Homo sapiens: one gene and its partners. The protein of the gene in region 1 purifies or fractionates together with the protein of each later gene. This does not show direct contact. Each region holds a gene or a part of one and is shown in the gene's direction. Other genes may lie near its edges.

Region 1 (7,083 bases):
GACCTCGATGATGAAGACTATGAAGAAGATACTCCCAAGCGTCGGGGAAAGGGGAAATCCAAGGTGAGGGGCCAGCGTGCTGCCTGCATCTTGGGACAGGGTGGCCTAGGGAATTCCTTATTTTATTTCAAGTGAGATTAGCGGCCACTTCCAAAAGAGTCTAACTCCTCAGGCCCAGCTACCAAAATAAGGGTGTCTCTTTGCTCTTCTTGGCAGGGTAAGGGTGTGGGCAGTGCCCGTAAGAAGCTGGATGCTTCCATCCTGGAGGACCGGGATAAGCCCTATGCCTGTGACAGTGAGTGCCTCACAAGTGGGTGGGTAGACCTTGCCTTGGACCCAGCTCCTGCTCTGGATATGAGAGGAGGGAGGGTTGTGTTTTTGCCCAGAGTATTAAAACAAACCTGGGCTCTTGTCCTGCCTGCTGACTGCTTCCGTCTGAGACCCCTGGGAGGCCTGGGTCCCTGCTATATGACGGGTGGGACCTGCATGCTCTGGGAAAGATTTCTGCCATCCTCTGGGGTAGGGTTGCTTGTGGGGGCCACAGCAGGCAGGGTTGGCCTCTCAACAGATGGCCTGCAGGTCTCCTGGCCTCAGTTAAGCCAGGGCCCCAGGGGTCTGACACTGAGTTTTTCAACGTCTGTTCTCTTTTTCTTTCTGTCTGCCTTGCCCCACTTCTGTCCCTCCACCCTGGGAGCACCATCGCCGCTGGGGTTTCTCTCTCGTTTGCTCTGCTTTCCTGCTGCTGCTGCTCCTGTCTCAAGTGTATCAAGGCCTTCTTCTCATGACTTTTCTTTCTGTCTTTCAGATAGTTTCAAACAAAAGCATACCTCGAAAGCGCCCCAGAGAGGTAGCTCTCTCAACTTTTCAGACTTGTGGTTTTCCTTTCCCTTTTTCCCTCTTCCCTTGTTCCTCCTGCCTTTCTCATTTCCTGGGATGCTAGCTTTAAAATCTCTGGAATGGCATGGGGGTAGGAGCAGTGGAATTTCTGCTGTGCTCTACTCCTCAAAGTCCTGAAGGCTGCCTTTACCACTGCTTGTTTCCCACAAACCTGCTCCTAGAGCTGCTCGGCCCAGTGCATGGGGTGGCTTCAGAAGCATTATCAGGAGCCCATTACAATCAGACCCTTCCGCTCCCTCCCCAGACCAGGCAGCTGGTGGTCAGCTCATGTTCCCCACTGCCCCACCACCTCCTCCTGCCATCCTCTCTCCCCACTCCTTTCCTGCTGGCCCCCTTGCCCTTCTTGGTATTACTTCTCAAGATGACAAAATGCCTCATGGGGATCTGCTTTCCTTGCTGATTGGCAGGCCTGGACAGGGCAATTACATGGGAGTGTGCTTGAATTTCTTTGGGGACCAACTGCCCAACTGGCTTCATTGATAGGCTATCCCCAAGAAACCCATCCCCTGCTTGTTTACCCACATTCAGGGGAGATGGGCTCCATGGTGTGTGGGGTAGCATGAGCCTCCCACATTTACTGAGGGGTAAAAAAGTTTGGAGTCTTATCCACTTTTCCCCCTTCCTGCCACCCCAAAGATATAGGAATATCCTTCCCTTTCCTGACCTGGAGCGTCCCAGACTGTTAGTATATCCCAGAGCAACTAACTGGTGATGGGGCAAGGGCTAAGCCCCCCAAAAGTCAACATGGAAGAGCAGTGGTGGCCATGGGGTTGGAGTTCAGGAGGGAAAAGAGCCCCAGAAGCTAGAGAGCCCCACGGCCTGATGCTCCTGGCTGAGGGGAAGTGGCCGTCACTCAAGGCCTGTCCCAGAGTGGAGCTGCTAGGGGAAGGGATGGTTGCCCTCTGCCTCAGGTGGAGCCCCCACAGCTTGCAGGGATGGGGACATGGCACTCTTGTATCCTAACACCTTTCTCTGCAATCTTCTTCCCACTCAGTTTGTGGAAAACGTTACAAGAACCGACCAGGCCTCAGTTACCACTATGCCCACTCCCACTTGGCTGAGGAGGAGGGCGAGGACAAGGAAGACTCTCAACCACCCACTCCTGTTTCCCAGAGGTCTGAGGAGCAGAAATGTAAGCTGAGGTGTCAGAAGTGGTGGGCAAGCAGAAGTTGGCCTGGTTATGAAAACCACTCCTTGCATGGGTGTTGAGTGGCTCAGGGACCCCCATGGGTGTCATCAAAACTCTTTCTCTCTGTAGCCAAAAAGGGTCCTGATGGATTGGCCTTGCCCAACAACTACTGTGACTTCTGCCTGGGGGACTCAAAGATTAACAAGAAGACGGGACAACCCGAGGAGCTGGTGTCCTGTTCTGACTGTGGCCGCTCAGGTACTGCTTCCCGTGAAGGCTGCTGCTTTGCCCAGTCCCCAAGGGGCTCTTGGCTTGCTGGCCTCTAGGGCTGTCATAACCAGCCCACCTCGCTTTTCCTAACCAAGAGAAGATGTAGCCACAGGCAGGAGCTCCTCTCTTCCCCCCGCATTTCCGACTGTCTGTCTCACTCACTTCCCCCACTACAGGGCATCCATCTTGCCTCCAATTTACCCCCGTGATGATGGCGGCAGTGAAGACATACCGCTGGCAGTGCATCGAGTGCAAATGTTGCAATATCTGCGGCACCTCCGAGAATGACGTGTGTATCCCCGCCCCCTCCTCAGCATGGCTCCTTCTGGGCTTTTACTGCTGTTTGCACAGTTCCCTCTAAAGTGAGCTTTCTTTTAAAAAGGGAGCAGGATCCCTCCCACATGCCACACGCCCCTCCCTAGCATCTCAGTCAGAACTCTGATTTGTTGCCAGATATATATTGAGTGCTGATTTTATGTCAGACACTGTTCTAGTCACTAAAGATGCTAAAGACAAACAAGGTCCCTGCCTCATGAGATTTACATTCTTACAGGAACAACAATAAGCAAGGATGTAAATGAGATTTGTATAATGTGCCATGAAAAAAACGAAATCAGTACTGTGGCAGAGAATAATTGCATAAGTGATTTATTTTGATGGTCAGGTATGGCTCTTCTGGGAGGGTGATGCTGGTGTTGAAATTTTGGTGATACCAAGGAGCCAGTCAAGATTTGGAGGTAGAGGAATCCCAGGAAAGGAGCAGCCAGCGCCAAGGCCTTATGTTGGACAAGCCAGATGACAGGGCATGGGAGAGTATGGTGGGCAATGAGATGAGAGAGGCAAGCACTGCCAGATCTCTGGGGCCTCGGGTTTTATTCTAGGTACAACAGGACACTGTTGAAGGGTTTTACTCGGGAAGTGACATGGTTATTTATGTATTTATTTATTTACTTTTTTTTTTTGAGATGGAGTCTTGCTCTGTCGCCCAGGCTGGAGTACAGTGGCACAATCTCAGCTCACTGCAACCTCTGCCTCCTGGGTTCAAGTGATTCTCCTGCCTCAGCCTCCCAAGTAGCTGGGATTACAGACACGTGCCACCACACCCGGCTAATTTTGTATTTTTAGTAGAGATGGGGTTTCTCCATGTTTGCCAGGCTGGTATCGAACTCCTGACCTCCGGTGATCCGCCTGCCTCAGCCTCCCAAAGTGCTGGGATTATAGGCGTGAGCCACTGCACCCAGCTATTTATTTATTCTTTATGTATTTATTTATTTATTTTGAGACAGAGTCTCTCTGTCATCCAGGCTGGAGTGCAGTGACGCGATCTTAGCTCACTAAAACCTTTCCCTTCAGGCTCAAGCAGTACAATCCTCCCACCTCAGCCTCCCGGGTAGCTGGGACCACAGATGCACACCACCATGTCTGGCTACTTTTTTATATTTTTGGTAGAGACAGGGTCTTGCCATATTGCTGAGCTGGTCTCAAACTCCTGAGCTCAAGCAGTCCTCCCACCTTGGCCTCTCAAAGTGCTGGGATTACAGGCATGAACCCACCATGTCTGGCCTTGTCTTATATTTTATTTTATATTTATTTATTTATTTCAAGATGGAGTTTTACTCTTGTCATCCAGGCTGGAGTACAATGGCGCAATCTCGGCTCACTGCAACCTCTGCCTCCCAGGTTCAAGCAATTCTCCTGTCTCAGCCTCCCAGGTAGCTGGGATTACAGGCGCCCGCCACCACGCCTGGCTAATTTTTAGTAGAGACGGGGTTTCACCATGTTGGCCAAGCTAGTTTTCAACTCCTGACCTCAGGTGATCCACCTGCCTCAGCCTCCCAAAATGCTGGTATTACAGGTGTGAGCCACCGTGCTTGGCCCTTGTCTTATATTTTAAAAAGATGACTTTGGGTGCCGTGTGGAGGGTAGACTGTAGGGACAAGGATGGAGGCTCATGCCTGTAATCCTAACACTTGAGAGGCTGAGGCGGGAGGATCACTTGAGCCCAGGAATTCAAGACCAGCCTGAGCAACATAGGGAGATCCTGTCTCCACAAAAAAAATAAACACTTAGCCAGGTGTGGTGGCACACACGTTAGTCCCAGCTACTTGGCAGGCTGAGGTGGGAGGATTGCTTGAACCCAGGAGTTTGAGGCTGCAGTGAGCCATGATCACACCACCGCACTCTAGCCTGGGCAACAAAGCAAGACCTTGTCTCAAAAAGAAATAGTCACTGGGCACGGCGTCTCACACCTGTAATCCAAGCACTTTGGGAGGCTGAGGTGGGAGGATTGCTTGAGCCTGGGATTTCAGGACCAGCCTGGGCAACGTAAGGAGATCTTGTCTCTCCAAAAACATTGAAAAATTAGCTAGGTGTGGTGGTGTGTGCCTATAGTCCCAGCTACTTGAGAGGCTGAGGTAGGAGGATCACTTGGGCCCAGGAGGTCAAGGCTGCAGTGAGCCGTGATTGCACCACTGCACTCCAGCCTGAGTGACAGCAATACCCTGTCTCAAAAAAATATACCATAGAGCTTGGGCTTTAGGGAAAAAAAAAAAAAAAAAAAAGTGGAGGTGATTTGATCAATTAGGAGCTCTGAAAGGACCCAAGTGAGAAATGACAGTGACTGGATCTGCGGTGGAGAGGGGCAGCATGGTTTCCCACATAAGATTCTCACATCTGTTCTTACCTGCTACCTACCCCTCTTGGAAATAGCAGTGTCCTGTAGTGGCCTGAGGCACATCAGTTATTCAGTCCCCATCCTCTTCCCTCTTGCCTACTTCAGGACCAGTTGCTCTTCTGTGATGACTGCGATCGTGGCTACCACATGTACTGTCTCACCCCGTCCATGTCTGAGCCCCCTGAAGGTAAGTTGCCCAGATCTTTTACTCAGAACAATTACTTTATTAGTTACTTGGAAAATACTGAGTTCTATGTTCTTTATGTTATCACTTACATATTCTTCCAAATTAGGGAGTAAAGCACCTTGCCTTGGCTCAGTTTAGAATGCCTTCCTAACATTTCAACTTAAAGGGTTTAGTGTTTGCACATTATCAGCTACATTTACAACAGAAAATCAACAGCCCAGAAGAAAGCAGATGCTGAGCCGAGATCAGGCACCCAGAAGGAATGATTTATTTTCTTCCAACCAGTCCAGAAAACTCAAGTGGTAGATTATCTGATGTGAAACTTCTGCAGTCAACTCTTGAAATTTGATAGATTTGAGCATTTATTTCCTATCCCTTCCCCTTCTGAACTGGGAAGGGACTTGACTTTGGAGCCTGAATGGGTCAGTCTGCTTCTCCGATAACTTACTGTAATAATGGTCCAAATTTATTAAAGCTATTCACTGAAACCAGTGGTGGCACCAAGAATTGGTTGCATCTCCACAAGTCCCCTTCCAGCTGGATTTCTGTACATAAACACCTCCTGTACAGAAATTGAGTAGCAGCTGGGCGCGGTGGCTCAAGCCTGTAATCCCAGCACTTTGGGAGGCCGAGGTGGGCGGATCACGAGGTCAGGACATGGAGACCATCCTGGCTAACACGGTGAAACCCCGTCTCTACTAAAAATACAAAAAAATTAGCCGGCTGTGGTGGCGGGCGCCTGTAGTCCCAGCTACTCAGGAGGCTGAGGCAGGAGAATGGCGTGAACCCGGGAAGCGGAGCTTGCAGTGAACCGAGATCGCACCACTGCACTCCAGCCTGGGCGACAGAGCGAGACTCCATCTCAAAGAAAAAAAAAAAAAAGCCAACAGAAATTCAGTAGCTTACTCAGAACACAAATGCCCAGGAGCTGTTACTGTGCACAAAGGATGTGGGCCAGCATTACAGGCAAGAGAAAGTGTTTCATTGTGTGATGTAAGCTGACTTGTAACATATCGGTCAAACTGCTGTCACCCCTCTAGAGAATGAGGCCCCTGACAATGTCTAAGAGTCCTTTAGCAGCTGTAGGGGAGTACTCAGCTTCTGTCAGGCCCAGTTTATGAATCTGCTTTGGGGAGAAGTCGCATGTTTATGTTTTGTTTTGTTTTGTTTTTTTAAACCATCAAACAGATGATCTATGTTACAGAATGGCTTTCCTATTAAAGTTCTGTGGGACATCGAGGTAGTGGAGAGCTGCAGGCCCGAGTGTCCTCACTGTAGTGTTAAGGCAGCTGAGGGGCAACCCCTAGAAGTATCAGATGTTCTAGGTCAGGGTCAGCAAGCTACAAGCTAAAACCTATGGACCACATCCAGCCACAGCCAGCTTAAATAGCTTGCAAGCTGTTTTGTTTTCTTTTCTTTTCTCTTTTTCTTTTTCTTTCTTTCTTTTTTTTTTTTTTTTTTGAGACAGTGTCTTGTTCTGTTGCCCATGTTGGAGTGGAGTGGCATGATCTCAGCTCACTGCAACCTCTGCTTCCCCGGGCTCAGGTAATCTGGTAATCCTCCCACCTCAGCCTCCTGAGTACCTGGGACTACAGGCATGCCACCACACCCGGCTAATTTTTGTATTTTTAGTAGAGACGGGGTTTTGCCATGGTGCCCAGGCTGGTCTCGAACTCCTGGGCTCAAGTGATCCACCCACCTCAGCTTCCCAAAGTGCTGGGATTACAGGTGTGAACCACTGCATCTAGCCTGAAGAAAATCCCCTTAAAAATATAAAAACTGGCTGTGCACTGTGGCTCGCATCTGTAATCCCAGCACTTTGGGATCTCTTGAGCCCAGGGGTTCAAGACCAGCCTGGGCAGCATGGCAAAACCCCATCTTTACTAAAAATAGAGAAATTAGCTGGGCGTGGTGCTGTGCGCTTGT
Region 2 (5,137 bases), on another chromosome or scaffold:
AAGTTCACGTGTGGCCAAAAGTTTAGCTACTATTTATAGTTCAGAGAGATAGGAAGCATAAGAATTCTTGCTCTGTAGGAGCTTTAGTTGAGAAAACAAGAAATGAAAACTTGGATAGAACTTAGCAAATGAAGGCATATAGAACTTACCAAAGGTTACATGAGACTGTGATGTGCCTTAAGTACACTCTAATACTCTGGGAGGCTTCATGGACAGAGACATGTCTGACTCTTCTCTGGCCCCCAGAGTCTGGGACAAAGTAGGTGCACAGAAGAAAGACACTAATTTATCTAGGTATATAAGATCACAACAACTTTTTAAAATTATCTCCCTTAAGCTAGTGGTCAGTGGTTGTGTAGTACAGTAGGTACCTCTTTTTCTTGGCAAGAAAATGTTTGCCAAGCCACCCTGTGGACCATACATAAATGAGCTCGCCTATCAAGAGAGTTGACCAGTTTTCCATCCCTATTGCAGAGGTAGTATCACTGGTCTTTACCAATTTACCACTGTCATGTCCTGCTGGTCACCCATGTTTTGTACTTCAGGATTCCTTCCCAAAGGGACCTCAGTAGAGCTCCTTGAGAATGTGGAGGGTTTCAGGTGGAACCTTCCCACCTGCTGCCTGGTTCCTGCCATAAGTCAGTGCTCTGGAATTCTGAACCATGTGAATTGGTTCTAGGATACTAGGTAGGCCACACTGGATGAGTTGCTTCTCCACTTCAGCCCTTCATTTCCTCCACTGAAAGATGACACAAGGGATTAGATCAGTGAGCTTCAGAATGCTTTCAAGAGTCTTAAGGGTTTGGTAGAAACCTCTTGGGCATAGAGTTGGGTGAATTGATTGGTGAGCAATGCTGCACTTTATTTCATATGTTTTCAATTCTGACAAGATCTAGGGGTTTTTAAAACCCGGATTAAATGATCTCTCGGGTTCTTTTGTACACTAAAGCAGGTAAAGTTGAAATAGGAAAGAGTCCCAGACACTCATACTAATTGTTCCCTTCAGGACATGACCTAGTTTGGGCCAAAAATCGAAGGACTGCAGTTCAGGAGCTGTGGAGGCCTCCCTGGACTATCCAGTTTGTCAGCAACTGCCTCAAGTGAAGCTCTCTGGCCCTGGTGGAGACATTTATATAGCAAGAATTTATTGATAATCTATTTTGTGCCCAGCTAGGCTAGGGACTGTGGGGGCGGGGGGGGGGCGGGAAGAAAAACAAGACATAGAACTGTCCCAGGAAGGAGCTTATTTTTTAACTGAAGAAATAAAATTAGAACCCTTGAAATACAATGCAATCAAAATTAACTTCTGAAAGGGCCTGGAGCGATTCTTGGAAGGAGTTGGCCTGGAAGGAGGGTGGGGGAAATTCAGACACCTCCCACTCCCCAGCCACTAGGGTTAGGCTAAGCAACTTGAGCAGTGCCCTAGAGGTTCAGAAGGAATTGACTTGCATAGACCACAGTGGAATCAATGCCTCACAGGGTGCATTGGTTGCCTGCCACTAAGGAAAGGACTTCTGTGTCTTTTTTTCACTGAATAGGCTCTTTCCTGAGTCTCTTGTATTTCCAGCAATAACGAGTTACTCTTGGATATGTTTGCAGATCCCCCTCCACCACAGCAGCAGCCACCGCCACCACCACCTGCAGATGGGGTCCCTCCGCCTCCTGCTCCTGGCCCGCCAGCCTCAGCTGCTCCTTAGCCTGGAAGATGCAGGGAACCTCCACGCCCACCACCATGAGCTGGAGTGGGGATGACAAGACTTGTGTTCCTCAACTTTCTTGGGTTTCTTTCAGGATTTTTCTTCTCACAGCTCCAAGCACGTGTCCCGTGCCTCCCCACTCCTCTTACCACCCCTCTCTCTGACACTTTTTGTGTTGGGTCCTCAGCCAACACTCAAGGGGAAACCTGTAGTGACAGTGTGCCCTGGTCATCCTTAAAATAACCTGCATCTCCCCTGTCCTGGTGTGGGAGTAAGCTGACAGTTTCTCTGCAGGTCCTGTCAACTTTAGCATGCTATGTCTTTACCATTTTTGCTCTCTTGCAGTTTTTTGCTTTGTCTTATGCTTCTATGGATAATGCTATATAATCATTATCTTTTTATCTTTCTGTTATTATTGTTTTAAAGGAGAGCATCCTAAGTTAATAGGAACCAAAAAATAATGATGGGCAGAAGGGGGGGAATAGCCACAGGGGACAAACCTTAAGGCATTATAAGTGACCTTATTTCTGCTTTTCTGAGCTAAGAATGGTGCTGATGGTAAAGTTTGAGACTTTTGCCACACACAAATTTGTGAAAATTAAACGAGATGTGGAAGGAGAACCTCAGTGATTTTATTCCCTAGTGAGGCCTCTGAGGGCCTCCACACTGCCTGGCAGAACATACCACTGAACTAGTATGTGCTAGAGGAGGGCACAAACATCCGCTCCTTCCCTAGGCCTGCTGGCTCTGGTTTTCTATGCAGATGATTCATTGGATTGGGGGTGAGTGTTTTGTTTTTCTGGGGGCAGTGTGAGCTTTGAGGGTTGGAATATTGGGAGGCATTCCTTAGTTTCCTCAACTAGCCTGGAAAGTTAGGAGTCTAGGGTAATTACCCCCAATGAGTCTAGCCTACTATTCACTGCTTTGTGTGCATTTTTTTCTCCCTCTTTAAAAAACCCTTTAAAAGAAAAAAAAAAGTAGATAGTGCTAAATATTTTAGCTCATGAAACTTGGTTAGGATGGCTGGGGGTACAAGTCCCCAAACTACCTCTTGTTACAGTAGCCAGGGAGTGGAATTTCGTCAACCGGTACTTTTAAGGTTAGGATGGGACGGGAAAAGTGAAGCAGGATATTAGCTCCTTATACCTTCTCCCTTCCATTTCTGAGATCTCACATTCCATCTATCACAGGGTTTTCAAAGAGATGCTGAGGGTAACAAGGAACTCACTTGGCAGTCAGAGCATCATGCTTTGAGGTTTGGGGTGCTCAGGCTGGGAGGGTAGAATGCCATTCCAGAGGACAAGCCACAAAAATGCCTTAATTTGAGCTCGTATTTACCCCTGCTGATAAGTGACTTGAGAGTTCCCGGTTTTTTCCTCTTGTCCTTCCCTCCCTTCTGTCCTTCCATGTGTGGGGAAAGGGTGTTTTTGGTAGAGCTTGGTTTCCAAAGCGCCTGGCTTTCTCACTTCACATTCTCAAGTGGCAGTTTCATTATTTAGAATGCAAGGTGGACATCTTTTGGATATCTTTTTCTATATATTTTCTAAAGCTTTACATATGAGAGGGTATAGGGAGGTGTTTATAAAACACTTGAGAACTTTTTTCCTTAATATCAGAAAGCAAAAAAATAAAACCACAATTGAGATTTGCCTTTCAAACCCTCAGGTTTGCCTCTAACCAGGTGTCCCTGGTCACCATCAGAGTACTGGAATACGGGAACCGAGGAGACCTTGGTCCTTTTGTTTTTGTTCTGGACTCTTGGGAGTGGAAATGAGAATGAGTTTATTCCTACTGGAGCTTAGTTCCAATGCATTTGGCTCCAGAAAGACCCCAGTGCCTTTTGACAATGGCCAGGGTTTTACCTACTTCCTGCCAGTCTTTCCCAAAGGAAACTCATTCCAAATACTTCTTTTTTCCCCTGGAGTCCGAGAAGGAAAATGGAATTCTGGTTCATACTGTGGTCCCTTGTAACCTCAGGTCTTTAATGTGATCACTTTCAAATTTAAAAGATCCAGGTGGAAATATTTTTACTATAGTAATAATTCTACAAAATACCTGAATTCTTAACACTGTTATATTTCAGTATAAGTGGTGGCTTTTTCTTTTCATGTCTTTGATCTGGTTTTATTCCTGTAATTCAGCCACCTGATTTTGTGAGGGGGGGGAATAATATGTGGTTTTTGTACAAACATGTTTCTCAGTGTGTTGTTATTTTGGAAAAAATGAGGGGAGGGAGTTTGGCAAGAATGGAGAAAATGAATGAAGAAGGCCTAATCTCTCTCTTTTTCAGTGAATAAATGGAACACCATTTCTGGATTCTAGTCCCATTCTCTGCATTCATACACCAGTTTCTTCATATATCCTATGAAGAACCTAAACATTTGGCCCCACCTGGTCTTGGTTTGATCAGCAGTTAAAATTCTGTGACTCGGGCTTCCTTCCCGACTGCCCACCTTCATGATGTGTAAGGAACATACATTTTGAGGGTACCTCACCCACTGTTCATTTGCATGGTCAAAGTGAAAATGAGTGGAAGTTCTCCAAAAATGATGGCCAACATCCTGGCACCTCCAGGTGTGAGAAATAGCTTTGCTTGGTGAATGGGATAATGTTTGTCAGGATGCAGTTTAGACAGTCCCAAGTTGGAGGCAGGCCTTGAGGGCAGAAGATTCTGTGAACCTTGGGGGACAGCTTTTGGGTACTCACAGATATAAACCCTGTGCAGAAAAAAAGAAGTGATTGTTTTCAGGATGCTTATAAATCGAGTGAAGCAAAAGAAGAGGATTCTGTGTCTGCCATGAGATGAACGCCCTGCTCTTCACGAAGGTGTGCCTCTAATAAAGAGAGCCAAAGCCAGCTGGGTCTCACCAGATTCCTATACTTTCTCAAGGATGTTGGGGGAGGTTAATCCTTTATCGAAACTAAAGACTGGTTTATAAACTTGTGTGTGAATTATTTTTAGAATATTGGAGGACATGCAAGATCAACCAGTCTTACATAGGTTCCCTGGGTCCTTACCATGGAGTAATTCCCCCACATTCAATTAAGAATAGTTTAGGCTGGGTGCAGTGGCTCACGCCTGTAATCCCAGCACTTGCATTTTGGGAGGCCGAGGTGGGCTGATACCTGAGGTCAGGAGTTTAAGACCAGCCTGGCCAACATGGTGAAACCCTGTCTCTAGTAAAAACAAAAAATTAGCCAGGCATGGTGGCACGCACCTGTAATCCCAGCTGCTCAGGAGGCAGAAGTTGCAGTGAGCTGAGATCACGCCACTGCACTCCAGCCTGGGTGATAGCGAGACTCCATCTCAAAAAATTAAGTTTATTTTTTTAGAGGTGGGGTTTTGCTCTGTCACCCAGGCTAGAGTACAGTGGCACGATCATAACTCACTGCAGCCTCAACCTCCTGGACTCTAGTGATCTTCCCACCTTAGCCTCCCA
Region 3 (6,832 bases), on another chromosome or scaffold:
CCAGCCTGGCAACAGAGAAAGACTCCATCCCAAAAGAGAAAGAGAGAGAGAGAGAGAGACGGAGTCTTGCTCTTTCGCCCAGGATGGGGTGCAGTGGTGCAATCTTGGCTCACTGCAGCCTCGACCTCCTGGGCTCAAGCGATCCTCCCGCCTGGGTCTCCTGTGTAGCTGGGACTACAGGCATGCGCCACCATGCCCGGTTAATTTTTGTATTTTTTTGTAGAGACAGGGTTTCGCCATGTTGCCCAGGCTAAAAATGCATAGAATCTTATGGGACCTCCATTGTCTGTGCGGTCCACCTGTTGACCAAATGTTGTTATGCAGTGCATGACTGTACTGCCTCCTCAGTGAAGCCTCCAGAATCACTTCTCCTTTATAAACGAACTCCTTCCTTTGACTTAAGGCCATTTGCATGAGTTCCAGGGTAGCTCTTTTAACGGCTTTTCTGTGTGTATCTGCCTTAGCCTGAGAGCCCTTTGAAGACAGGGCTTACATATTTCTACCTCAGTGACTGCTAGTGGACTTCAACATCATCGAAGTACAGAACTTCATATCAAAATGTGCCTTGAAGGCCCATTTTACAGATAGGGAGACTGACTTCCATTTCCATTTCTCTCCCTGATGCCCCATCCATGCAAGGCGCTGGCCTGGCTAGTCAGCGAATCAAGGTCCGCAAGAGCCAGTGTCTGGCGCCCCGGGAGGGACTCCATTTCCCGAAACGCACAGCGCGCGCCCGATGCGTGCTGGGGAATGTAGTCCTGACCCGGTGCCCCGCCCCCGCCCCACCCCCGAAGTTTCCCAGCACCAGTCGCGATCCTCAGCAGCCCAGACTTTCGTCTCCTGTTGTCACTCACTACTTCCTGTGACTCCAAGACTGCCTTCCCTTACTCTACCCCTTCCTTCAGCCCCCCAGCTCTGATTCTTTCCCGAGACTCAGTGGACGCAGGGGTCCTGCCCCAGCCCCGACCCCAGTCCTCCCCCTGGGTGTACTCGAACCGGTGATCTAAGCCCTGAGCCCAGGTCCCTGAAACCTCAGCCCCAGGCCTCCTCTAAACCCTAGCGCCTGCTGTTTCTCACAACTCACCCGCTCACTCGTTACCTGACACCGGAGCCCTGCCCTTCCCCGCCAAGGCCGCTCCCCTCCCGGACCCGGGGGTGGCGGAAACCCAGACCCCCAGCTCCCAATCCCTCTGACTCCTGCGCCCCTCAGCGACCCGGCGTCCGGTCCCTCAGCCCCTTACCCAGACTTCCCTCCCTCCGGCTCATGCTGGCCCCTGGCTGATCCCGGCTCCCTTCACGCCCCCCTTTCGAGGGGGGAGAAAGGGGAAAGGGCTGGGGGCGTGGCCCGGGCGCAGCCAATCAGAGCCCAGACCCCAAACATTTCATCCTACCCCCCCTTTTGAGACAGGATTCCTTGGCCCTGAGCTCAGCTCCTCGTCCGTGGGGCCTAGTGGGGGAAGGGGCCCGAGGGGGAAGGCAAGTTGTCTGCCGGGTGGACAGGACCTCGGGGCTGGGGGTGTCAGGGCCTGGGAGGCAGCCCAATGTTCTGCCGCGGGCTCAGGCTTGGACCTGAGGCAGCGGCTGCTTTGGGTGTAAAGCTGAGGAGACAGGAGAGGGAACTGCCGGACTGGCAGGACAGGAATGCGCAGGCCCTCTCTCTAGTCTGGGGCGCGGCTTGCGAGGGAGGCTACGATGGGGGCCGTCAGGCTTGGGGCATGTTTGTCCAGACATACATCTCCTGGCCTATCTTAGATGGCTTCCAATCTCATTGTCACACCCACCAGGAGGGAGACAGATACACTGCTCTCCTCTTCTTAGCAGGCCTAGTAACAATCACACCCCGCCCCCCACCCCCAGGAGAACAAGCTACAGAGACCTGGACAGGAAGTCACACCCATACGTCAACCCCATTAACCTGGTGTAGACGGAAAGGAAGGCACATAGGGATGATCCATACTTGGTTTCTGGCCCCCGCGAGGGGCTCGCGGTCTGTCGAGGAAGCCCATAGACAACAGAAGCTAATGGGGTTTGTGAATGAAGACGAGGAGGCCCGTGTGTGTGTGCGCTTGCGTGTGTCTGCGTGTGTGCGTGCATGCGGACGTGTGTGCGTGTGAGCATGCGTGTGTGCGAGTGGATTTGTGTGCGTGTGAGTGTGCAGGTGTGCGCGTGTGTGCATGTGCGCGTGCATGTGTGTGCGTGTGTTCGTGTGAGTGGGTGTGTGTATTGCCGTGAGCAATTGCTGGAATAAAAGAAGAAAGAGTTTAACTGGAGAGGGCACAGCAGATAGAATTGAGCCAGACAATTGGTAGGGCCCACAATCACATGTGTATTAACTGTAAATATTTATTGGGCATTTACCATGTGCTGGGCACTGTTCTAAGAGCCATATGCACATTAACTAACTCCTGTGTTATAGATGCGGAATAGAGAGAAGTGACTTGTCCAGGGTAACACAGTTAGGTGTGGCACAACTGGGATTTTACCTAAGCAGCTTGGCTCAAAAAAATGCTGTCTTAACCATGCTCCTAACCCCTTATACCCTTAACCTCTGGACATGGTCACGCCCAAATTCACAGACACAACAGCCACACCTTGAAACACACACACACACACAACAGCAGCACAAATTTTGACATGGTCTTATCTGCTGACAAGCCAGCCTCAAATAAAGTCAACAAAGACACACTCATTTTATTTAAGTAATGTACATTTTATTTAAGTCATGTGATGGATTTTCACAGAATACATATGCCCAGGGAACCAGCACCAGATTACACAACAGAACTGGATCAGCTCCCAGAAGCTCTCCCCTCGTCCCCTCCCAACCCTAAGGGCGATCACTATCTTGACTTTGGTGCACTATAAATTAGTTTTGTCTGGTTCTGAACGTAATACACCTGGAACCATCTAGTATGTACTGTTGCATTTGGCTTCTGTCACTCAAGATTTCATCATGCGACTTGTCTATGTTGCTGTGTGTAGCCGGGCATGTCAATCCCGTTGCTGTGTCTATGTGCATGGTAGTGAGTAGGGCATCATTCATTTTCCATTCTGTTGATGGGTTATTTCCAGTTTGGGGCTGTTATGAAAGGGCTCTGAACATTCCCATGCACCCTCTTGATGCTCACACCTACACATTTCTGCTGGGTGTTGACAGCCTAGGAGTGGAACTGCTGGATCACAGAGGTGGCATATGTTCGGCTTCATTAGAAAACTGCCAGTTTTCCAAAATGTCTCTACCAATTTACACTCCCCCAGAAATACAAGAGAGGTCCAGTCGCTCTACTTTCTCGCCTCCACACGGTGCGGTCTTTTTCACTTTAGCCATTCTGGTGGTGGAGACCCACTCGTATTCGCAGCGCCTGGAGCGTAATTGGCACTCAGTTAACAAGACTGTTGAATGAATGGATGACTGAGTAAGTTGGGCGGTGTAGACCAACAGCCTGGCGAGGGCGGACACACGCACGCACTCCACACACAGCGTTTCGCGGACACCCACCGCGGCTCACGCAGCGCAGGACACAGACCCTGTCGCGCACCCCGCGCCCACGTGGTCTGAACACACGGCCTCGGCCCTGCCTCGCGCGTCCGGTCGCAACTCCCGCTCTCCGTCCCCAACTCGCGCGTCCGTCCCCAACTCCCGCTCTCGGCGGCGGGCAGGGGGCGCTGAGCGTCCAGGCGCTCCAAGGGGGCGGGCCCGGGTCGGGGCGGGGCCGGCCGGGCTTCCAGGCCTGGGCTCTGGCCGCCCGCGCCACCGGGCCGCTCCGGGGACAGGCCGGGGCGGGGCGCGGCGGCAGGAAACGGGGCGGGGACTTGCGGAGGCGTTGGGGACGAGAGAGGGCGCGGCCAACTCCAGGGGGGACGGCAGGCCGAGAGCGCGGCGCCCGGGCCTGGCGCGGAGCCTGAGCCCGCCGGACGGGAGGCGGCCCCGCCGCGGGCTCGGCCCCGGCCCCAGCCCCGCCAGCATGGCCGGCCGGACTGTACGGGCCGAGACCCGGAGCCGGGCCAAGGATGACATCAAGAAGGTGATGGCGACCATCGAGAAGGTCCGGAGATGGTGAGCGCTGCTCGGGGGCCAGGGACGGGACACAGCGGGACCACCAGCACCAAAGGCGTCTACGCTGCCCTCGCCAGCTCTGGGCCCCGGGTGTTCGGTGTATCTCCACCCACTAGCTTTGCCCTGGATCCACAGGGCTCTGTCCCCGTTCGCCTGGCTACTCCTGGGGGTCTACAAAGCGTGATCCCCAGCCGTGTCCTCCCAGAGCGGGAGCCCCCTCTTGTGCCCCGCCCCCTAAAGCTTTGACACCCCTCCTGCAGGTGCGCCCCAGGATCTGCAGGGCTCTGATCCCGGGCCAGGCCCATAGCCACGCCCCCCATGTGTGCCCCAGGGGTCCGCAGAGCCAGGGCCCCAAATCATATCCTCTCTCTAGAGGCACCCACCGCCTATGCCCTGGGGTTTGCAGGACTCTCTTCCTCCATGTAACTATGCCCCATTAGCAAAACTGTTGCTATCCTCCTGTGCCTCCTCAACCTCTGCAGGTACCCCCAGATGTGTCCAGCTCCTAGGGGGGTGGGTCTCCCCTCAGGCCTCTCTGACCCAGCCCCCCACCCTCCCACAGGGAGAAGCGATGGGTGACTGTGGGCGACACTTCCCTTCGTATCTTCAAGTGGGTGCCAGTGGTGGATCCCCAGGAGGAGGTGAGCAACCCCCATTCCCACAAGGCCCTGCATCTGTGCAACCTCAGGCAAGTTCCTCCCCACGCTGACCTCTACCTCCAGCTCCCCGAGACCTCAGATGCAGCAGGACAGACGGGAACCATCATTAGCAGCTCCTCCCCTTTTGCCCTCTTTTCTGCTCCACACCCCCTGAGTTTGAGCCCTTTTGCTTCTCAGTGCCTCAGTTTCCTTAGGTGTATGGTGGGGCTTTCCAAGAGCTCTGACCCTAATCCTCTAACCCCCAGGAGCGAAGGCGGGCAGGTGGCGGGGCAGAGAGATCCCGTGGCCGGGAACGTCGGGGCAGGGGCGCCAGTCCCCGAGGGGGTGGCCCTCTCATCCTGCTGGATCTTAATGGTAGGTAGGGATCCTGAAACGCGGGGGGCTGTGGGGACTGAAGGAGTGTACTAGGGATCTCAGGCCAACCATCTCGGCTCTTGCTCCCGCAGATGAGAACAGCAACCAGAGTTTCCATTCGGAAGGTTCCCTGCAAAAGGGCACAGAGCCCAGTCCTGGGGGCACCCCCCAGCCCAGCCGCCCTGTGTCACCTGCCGGACCCCCAGAAGGGGTCCCTGAGGAGGCTCAGCCCCCACGGCTGGGCCAAGAGAGAGGTAGGACCAGGTACCTCCCAGGAGCTCTCTCCTCTAAGTCCTGTCTTCTCCAGAGTCTAACCTACCAGCTCATCCCTATACCTGCTCCCCGTCTTGTGCACCCTCCTCAAGGCGCCTTCCGACTCCTGCAGAATCTCCCTGTAGCTACAGTCTCATTCCTCTGGTCTCTTAGAATCTATACAGACATATCACTGTCTGAGATTTTCATGTAAATTAATTTTTTACTAGTTTATCTTTCTCCTCACTCTCATGTCAGTTTCCTGAATGTTGGGCCCATATTGATCCTTTTTTTTTTTTTTTTTTTTTTTTTTTTTTGAGAAAGGGTCTCGCTCTGTCACCCAGGCTGGAGTAGTATAGTGGTGTGATCATAGCTCACTGCAGCCTTGAACTTCCTGGGCTCAAGCGATCCTCCCGCCTCAGCCTCCCAAGTAGCTGGGACCACAGGCATATGCCACCACACCTGGCTAATTTTTGTATTTTTTGTAGAGATAAGGTTTCACCATGTTGCCCAGGCTGGTCTCAAACTCACTTGCTCAAGCAGTCCTCCACCTTCAGCCTCCCAAAGTGCTGGGATTACGGGTGTGAGCCATCACACCCACACCCGGCCCTCCCCCCCCTTTTTTTTAGAGACAAGGTCTCTGTCACCCACGCTGGAGTACTCTGGTGCAATCATAGCTCACTGCAGCCTCAAACTCCTGGGCTCAAGGGATCCTCTGGCCCCAGCCTCCCAAATAGCTGGGACTCAGGTGTGTGCCACCATGCCCAGCCAATTCTTAAATTTTTTGTAGAGGTAGGGTCTCGCTATGTTGCCAAGGTTGGTTTTGAACTCGTGGCCTGAAATGATCCTCCTGTCTCAGCCTCCCAAGGTGCTGGGATTATAGGCGTGAGTCACTGTGCCTGGCCCTATGTGATCTTGTTCACTACTGTATCCTCAGAATAATATGGGACACATAGTAGGTGCTCAGTAAATATCTGTTGAGTGAATAAATAATAGTGATAGTCATAGGGGTGATTAACAATAATAGGAATAACAACAGCTAGTATTTATTGAGCTCTTACTGTGTGCTAGGTGCCCTGGTAAACACTTTACGTGGTTGGGTTTTTTTCTTTTCTCTTTTTCTTTTCTTTGAGAGAGTTTCGCTCTTGCCAAGGCTGGAGTGCGACGGCACAATCTTGGCTCACTGCAACCTTCACCTCCTGGGTTCAGGCAATTCTCCTGCCTCAGCCTCCTGGGTAGCTGGGAATATAGGCATGAACCACCATGCTCGGCTGGTTTTGTATTTTTAGTAGAGTTGGGGTTTCGCCATGTTGGCCAGGCTGGTCTCAAACGCCTGACCTCAGGTGATCTGCCCGCCTTGGCCTCCCAAAGTGCTGGGATTACGAGCCACCACGCCCAGCCTTTTTTTTTTTTTTTTTTGAGATGAAGTCTTGCTCTGTTGCCCAGGCTGGAGAGCAGTGGTACGATCTTGGCTCACTGCAAACTCTGCCTCCCAGGTTCAAGCGATTCT

The links.
Region 2: the proteins of DPF2 (region 1) and SMARCC1 purify together in Homo sapiens (affinity purification with mass spectrometry; 11 studies listed by BioGRID and IntAct, with this or other methods). This does not show direct contact.
Region 3: the proteins of DPF2 (region 1) and BCL7C purify together in Homo sapiens (affinity purification with mass spectrometry; 6 studies listed by BioGRID and IntAct, with this or other methods). This does not show direct contact.

The regions. Positions count from the first base shown.
Region 1 is NC_000011.10:65,343,775-65,350,857, forward strand, and holds part of DPF2 (zinc finger protein ubi-d4), read left to right. Parts: coding exon 1-63; intron 64-216; coding exon 217-295; intron 296-805; coding exon of another isoform or gene 806-847; intron 848-1,891; coding exon 1,892-2,029; intron 2,030-2,155; coding exon 2,156-2,284; intron 2,285-2,472; coding exon 2,473-2,585; intron 2,586-5,075; coding exon 5,076-5,157; intron 5,158-7,083. UniProt on the Homo sapiens protein: Plays an active role in transcriptional regulation by binding modified histones H3 and H4. Is a negative regulator of myeloid differentiation of hematopoietic progenitor cells. Might also have a role in the development and maturation of lymphoid cells.
Region 2 is NC_000003.12:47,584,769-47,589,905, reverse strand, and holds the end of SMARCC1 (SWI/SNF complex subunit SMARCC1), read left to right. Parts: intron 1-1,599; coding exon 1,600-1,697; 3' UTR 1,698-4,637; downstream 4,638-5,137. UniProt on the Homo sapiens protein: Involved in transcriptional activation and repression of select genes by chromatin remodeling (alteration of DNA-nucleosome topology).
Region 3 is NC_000016.10:30,891,078-30,897,909, reverse strand, and holds the start of BCL7C (B-cell CLL/lymphoma 7 protein family member C), read left to right. Parts: upstream 1-3,832; 5' UTR 3,833-3,965; coding exon 3,966-4,057; intron 4,058-4,619; coding exon 4,620-4,698; intron 4,699-4,961; coding exon 4,962-5,070; intron 5,071-5,162; coding exon 5,163-5,324; coding exon of another isoform or gene 5,325-5,334; intron 5,335-6,832. Other genes in the region: CTF1 (cardiotrophin-1), read right to left, coding at 1,916-2,006. UniProt on the Homo sapiens protein: May play an anti-apoptotic role.